Regions from separate parts of the Homo sapiens genome. Here region 2 is linked to region 1. Evidence: fine-mapped expression QTL. A gene starts in region 1. The other region holds a variant in brackets. All regions are shown on one strand. Distances are from middle to middle. Region 1 holds the start of TIPRL (TOR signaling pathway regulator). Region 2 has its middle 5.4 kb from the start of GPR161.

Region 1 (2,912 bases):
TAAAATGTCGTTAAATGGTTTTTTATGTGCAATGGTATAATGTGCCTTACTTTCCAACCTGACTGGTGTAGAATCACATGACAGATAGCAGACTCCCTTTTCTTAAGCATTCCTTTCTACTGACTTCAAGTCTTTAGACAAAGCTTAACACTGTTTTTTGTTTGTTTGTTTGTTTGTTTTTGAGACAAGGTCTTACTCTGTCACCCAGGCTGGAGTGCAGTGGCACGATCTCGGCTCACTGCAACCTCTGCCTCTCAGGTTCAAGTGATTCTCCCACCTCAGCCTCCCTAGTAGCTGGGGTTACAGGCATCCACCACCGTGCTTGGCTAAGTTTTGTATTTTTAGTAGACACAGGTTTTCACAATATTGGCCAGGCTGGTCTTGAACTCCCGACCTCAGGTGGTCCACCCACCTTGGCCTCCCAAAGTGCTGGGATTACAGTCTTGAGCCACTGCACCTGGCCTGTGTTTTTATTTGTTTTTGAGACAGGGTCTCGCTCACCCAGGCATGAGTGCTGTGGCATGATCATGGCTCAATGCAGCCTCTGAGGCTCAAGAGATCCTCCCACCACAGCCTCTCAAGTGGCCTGGGACTACAGGCAGATACCATCATACACAGCTAATTAACACGGTTTGTAGAGATGAGGGCTTACTCTGGTGCCCACGCTGGTCTCAAATTCCTGGACTCAAGCAATCCTCTCACCTAGGCCTCCCAAGATGCTGGGATTATAGGCAGGAGCCACCTCGCCTGACTAAAGCTTAAATCTTTCAACAGATTGCCGATCAGAAAATCTTTGAATCCACCTATGATCTGTAAGCCTCTCCTTCAAGACATCCCACTTCCTTAGCCTGAACCAATGTATATCTTCCATATATTGACTTATTTTACCTGCAATTCCCAACTCCCTAAAATGTATAAAACAAAGAGTAATGCCACCGCTTCAGATGCTCTTTGTTAGGACCTCTTGGGACTATTCCCTGGGCCATGGTCACTCATATTGGTTCAGAATAAATCTCTTTAAAACCTTTTACAGAATTTGTTTTTTTTCCATTAACAAAATCATCTCATTTTGAGGCAACTGAAGCCTAAAATCGTTAGAGAAGCGCTTTGCCCAAGGATTCACACAATAGTGTTGCAAATGGAGATTTAGCACTAAGTCAGCTGTGTTGTTTTCACTATACTGGGTGCCTACATAGCAACTAGACCATGGAAAGTCTTCGCATATCTACGAGGATGCAATTTTTGATAGGAGTTGGTCATAGTCAAGAGTGGCTAGATGGCCACTTCTAAATCTTGTTGGTGCTGGATTTCCTAAACTCTGTGGGATTACTTCTTTTTTTGACCTCAAAACAGAAAAATTTCCTCTGTAACACGATTCACTAACACATGAGGTAATCACACTGCTTTGAGGTCTGTAAGGATCAAGTTGGAACCGTCATCCCCTTCCCTGGCAGTCCCTAAAATCCTTCGAGATGACGTCACCCAACGAGTTCAAGAGGGCGGTGCGTTCCTAACCACACCTTCTGCAACCCAAGTGCCGCCCCTCTGACTTTCTCCTTTTTCCTTTTTTCCGGAACGCCGGAACGTAAGACGTGGGTCACGCAACAAGAGCAACTAGTCCCGGAAGCAAAAAGCAAAGAGGCGGAGAAGAAGACGGGAAGCAGAGCCCGCGTCCGGGTCGGCCGGCAGGGGGCGGGGCCGGGCATGGTAACGGCTCGGAAGCCTAGGAGGCTGGGCCGGAGGGAGGCGGAGGAACCGGTGTTCGCCGCCGCCGCTGCTTCAGCTTATTCCTTGTGGCCTCTGCGGGTCCTGCCTCAGCCATGATGATCCACGGCTTCCAGAGCAGCCACCGGGATTTCTGCTTCGGGCCCTGGAAGCTGACGGCGTCCAAGACCCACATCATGAAGTCGGCGGATGTGGAGAAGTGAGGCTTCGGGGCACGGGGTCTGGGCGCTGGCCGGTTGCTGGCCCAGGGCGGGAGGCAGGGCGAACTCTGTGCAGCCCCTCCCCTTTTCCCTGAGGCGGAGGTTCGGTCCCTCCGGACCGGACCTTTGATTGACAACTTCGATAAATAATCCAGTCACACTTCCGGGCCCTTTGGTTGGGGATCGCCAGGCGCTGCTTTCGTCAACTGTCAATCCGCCTGGGTTTGAGTAGAGTGTGACTGTTCTGGTGGACTTTCCCCTCACCAAACGTCTCCTCCTGCCTCAGCCTGCACCACCTTTCTTTCTGGGTGGCTGTTGCCTGTTTTCTTAGGGGTTAATGACGGGGATGATTTATAAGTTTGGTTTCTGTCACGTCAGGTGCTGTGCCCGGCGCTTGAGATAGGAAATGTAAAAGACAACGTGCGCCTCAATTCACAGTCTCGTGAGAGAGACAGACAATTATATTACAGCGTGAATAAATGTAATGAAGATGTATACACGGAGTGATGTGAGGTCTTTTAGGGGCTCGAACCATCTGGGAAATTGGGATGCCTGAACTGAATCTTTATAAAACCGTTGCGGGGGGCGGTGGATAGGTACATGCCATCAGGTCAGGCAGAGTGAGTTGTGATGCGTTTTTGATGCCTGGGCTGAATCTTGACAAAATTTAGGGGAATCAGGGGACGCATGTAAAGCTGGGGGCTCAGGGAGAGTGAAAGCTGTGATGTGTTTAAAGAGCTGTGTCCGTGTGATTGGAGCGTGAGGTACCATAGGGGGTGTTGTGAGAGATGAGAGGTAGGCCCCAGGGGAATCAAGATACTGAGGGAATTTTTATGCCTGGCTAAGGAGTTTTCAATTTTATCTGACAACCACTGGGTGTAATTTTATCCAAAGGAGCTGCATTATCAGATGTACGCTCTGAAAGATTTCTCTGGAGGCCATGTTGAGGCTGGATTGCAGGTCCGCAGGGATGGGAAGGAGACCAGT
Region 2 (2,912 bases), 36 kb before region 1:
AATGCCCAAATGTCTGTCAGTAGGGGATTAGAGGAATAAGTTAGGATTCAGTGCTACAAATGAATGAAGAAAATCTCTATACACTAACATGTAGTGGCCTCAAAGACGTATTGTTAAGTGGAAAAAAGCAAGGTGCAGGAATATTTGCTATACATTATCTTTTTTTTTTTTTTGAGACATGGTCTCACTTTGTTGCCCAGACTGGAGTACAGTGACGCGATCTCAGATCACTGCAACCTCTGTCTCCCAGACTCAAGCGATTCCCCTGCCTCAGTCACCCGAGTCGCTGGGATTACAGGCGCGCCCCACTACCACCAGGCTAATTTTTTATTTTTAGTAGAGACGGGGTTTCACCATGTTGGCCAGGCTGGTCTTGAACTCCTGACTTCAAATGATCCACCCTCCTTGGCCTCCCAAAGTGCTGGGATTACAGGTGTGAGCCACCACGCCCAGCCTATGTTATCTTTTATGTGAGAAAAGGAAAGAAAATAAATATATAGGTATTTGCTTATACTTAAAAGTGGAAAAACAAACCAAAAACAATAAAAAGAAGGTTTCCAATAAGGGAAAGGAACAAACAGAAGGAATGAAAAAGAAAGCAAGGTTTCTAGGAAGGTTCCTTGCTGTATGGCTTTGAAACTAAGTACATATTTTACAAATTTGAGAAAAGTTAACTCAAAAAAGAAAAAACCTCCAAAAACTGAAGAAAAACTAGGATGAATATCAAGTTGGTGGCATATGAACTTTTATTAGTTTTCTGTCACTGCATAATGATTACCACAAATTTAGCAGCTTAAAACACTCTATTATGTTGTCTGGGCTGGTCTTGAACTCCTGGCCTCAAGCAATCCCCTTACCTTAGCTTCTCGAGTCACTGGGATTACAGGTGTGACCCACCACACCTGGCAAAACACTCATTTTTTTTTAATCTCACAGTTTAGAGAGAAGTCCAGGCAGGCTCAGTTGGGTTTTCTGCTCATGTGAATGCCAAAATGAAGGTGCTGGCTAATCTGAGCTCTTATATGGAGGCTTTTGCGGGGACTCTGCTTCCAAGCTTGTTCAGGCTGCCAGCAGAATTTAGTTTCTTGCCACTGTGGGATGGAAACCCCCATTTCTTTGCTGGCTGGCAGTGGGGCCACCCTCTGCTCCCAGAGGCTGCCTGCAATTCTTCCTCATGTGGTCCCCTTATCTTCAAAGTCAGCAAAGGCATGTCAAATCCTTCTCATACCCTGACCTTTCTGGCTTCCTCTTAATTCCCCTTTCAGCCAGAGAGAGCTCTTTGTTTTTAAGGATTCATGTGATACATCAGGTCTACATTCCCTGTCGTAAGGTCAACTGTATCAAACAACA[A/T]AATCCTAGGAATGATATCTCATTATATTCAAAGGTCCTGGGGATTAGGAAAGGGCATCTTTGTCAAGCTATCTTCCAATTCTGCCACAACAATATAAAGAATTTCAGGGCCAGGCACAATGGATCGTGCCTATAATCCCAGCACTTTGGGAGGCTGAGGTGGGAGGATAATTTGAGCCCAGGAGTTCAAGACCAGCTTAGCCAAAATAGCAAGACCTTGTCTCTAAAGAAAAAGAAAAATCATTTTTAAAGAAGTTTTTAAAAAACAAATTTTTGGGCCGCGTGCGGTGGCTCATGCCTGTAATCCCAGCACTTTGGGAGGCCAAGGTGGGCAGATCACCTGAAGTCAGGTGTTCGAGATCAGCCTGGCCAACATGGCGAAACCCCATCTCTACTAAAAAAAAAAATACAAAAATTAGCTAGGCATGGTGGCTCATGCCTGTAGTCCCAGTTACTTGGGAGGCTGAGGTAGGAGAATTGCTTGAACCCAGGAGATGGAGGTTGCAGTGAGCTGAGATCCTGCCACTGCACTCCAGCCTGGGCAACAGAGTGAGACTCCGGCTCAAAACAAAAATTTCAAGTGAGTTTAGAATATAATATTTTGATGGCACTTTCCTAGTGGGATATGTTCTTAGGACAAAAAGAATCTCAAAAAAAAAACAAAACTCAATCTCACTCAGTTCTCTTATGTCAGTGGTACTCTGGTATTGTTGTCTGAAACAATTAAGATACATAGAAAAAGGCCGGGCGTGGTGGCTCATGCCTGTAATCCCAGCACTTTGGGAGGCCGAGGCAGGCGGATCTTGAGGTCAGGAGATCGAGACCATCCTGGCTAACACAGTGAAACCCCGTCTCTACTAAAAATACAAAAAAAAATTAGCCGGGTGTGGTGGCGGGCACCTGTAGTCTCAGCTACTCCGGAGGCTGAGCCAGGAGAATGGCGTGAACCCAGGCAGCGGAGCTTGCAGTGAGCCGAGATCGTGCAACTGCACTCCAGCCTGGGAGAAAGAGCGAGACTCCGTCTCAAAAAAAGAAAAAAATACACACACACATAGAAAAAAGCAAATAAGTAATTACCTTTATGTTGTGGGACCTGTGATTTTTCGCAAGGAAAAAAATATAAAAGTGTATAGGTAAGTAAAAACCTACCTGCAAAGAATAATTTGCGTTTGCCAACCCTAACCACTCAAAAGGCAAGAAGAAATGAGAACACAGAAGGAGTGAGCACTCCTGTAGCAATGAACACTGCTAGCAAGCAGACGTAGTCTTAAAATACCACTTCTCATTAAGAGGAACTAAGGCTCCTTGCAGAAATGGCTTATTCCAGGTCTGAACTTTATATGCTTTTTTTTAAAAAAAAAAAACAAAACATATAAAATGAATCTGGAATATCTTTGTGTACCAGAAAAGAGATTTCAAAGACCAATGGGGTCATTTTGAAAAGATACAAGAGCTGATCTGAAGGGACAATTTGAACATCAAAAAGAATAAGAAGCCAGGCACAGTGGTTCATGCCTGTAATCCCAGTACTTTGGAAGGCTGAAGTAGAAGAATTGAGGCCA

What was found. PIP is the estimated chance that this variant, and not a neighbour inherited with it, causes the effect.
Region 2: its variant is fine-mapped to the expression of TIPRL in whole blood (TOPMed, PIP 0.91).

Annotation. Positions count from the first base shown.
Region 1 is chr1:168,177,258-168,180,169 of GRCh38, forward strand. TIPRL (TOR signaling pathway regulator) reads left to right here and starts at 1,705. Exons shown (of 7, transcript NM_152902.5): 1 at 1,705-1,924. The coding sequence starts at 1,821. RefSeq lists enhancers at 1,328-1,829, 1,817-1,936.
Region 2 is chr1:168,140,907-168,143,818 of GRCh38, forward strand. No RefSeq gene overlaps it. Among named protein-coding and RNA genes, the nearest start is that of GPR161, 5.4 kb to the left of the region's middle. The variant A/T (reference allele first, on the strand shown) is at 1,351.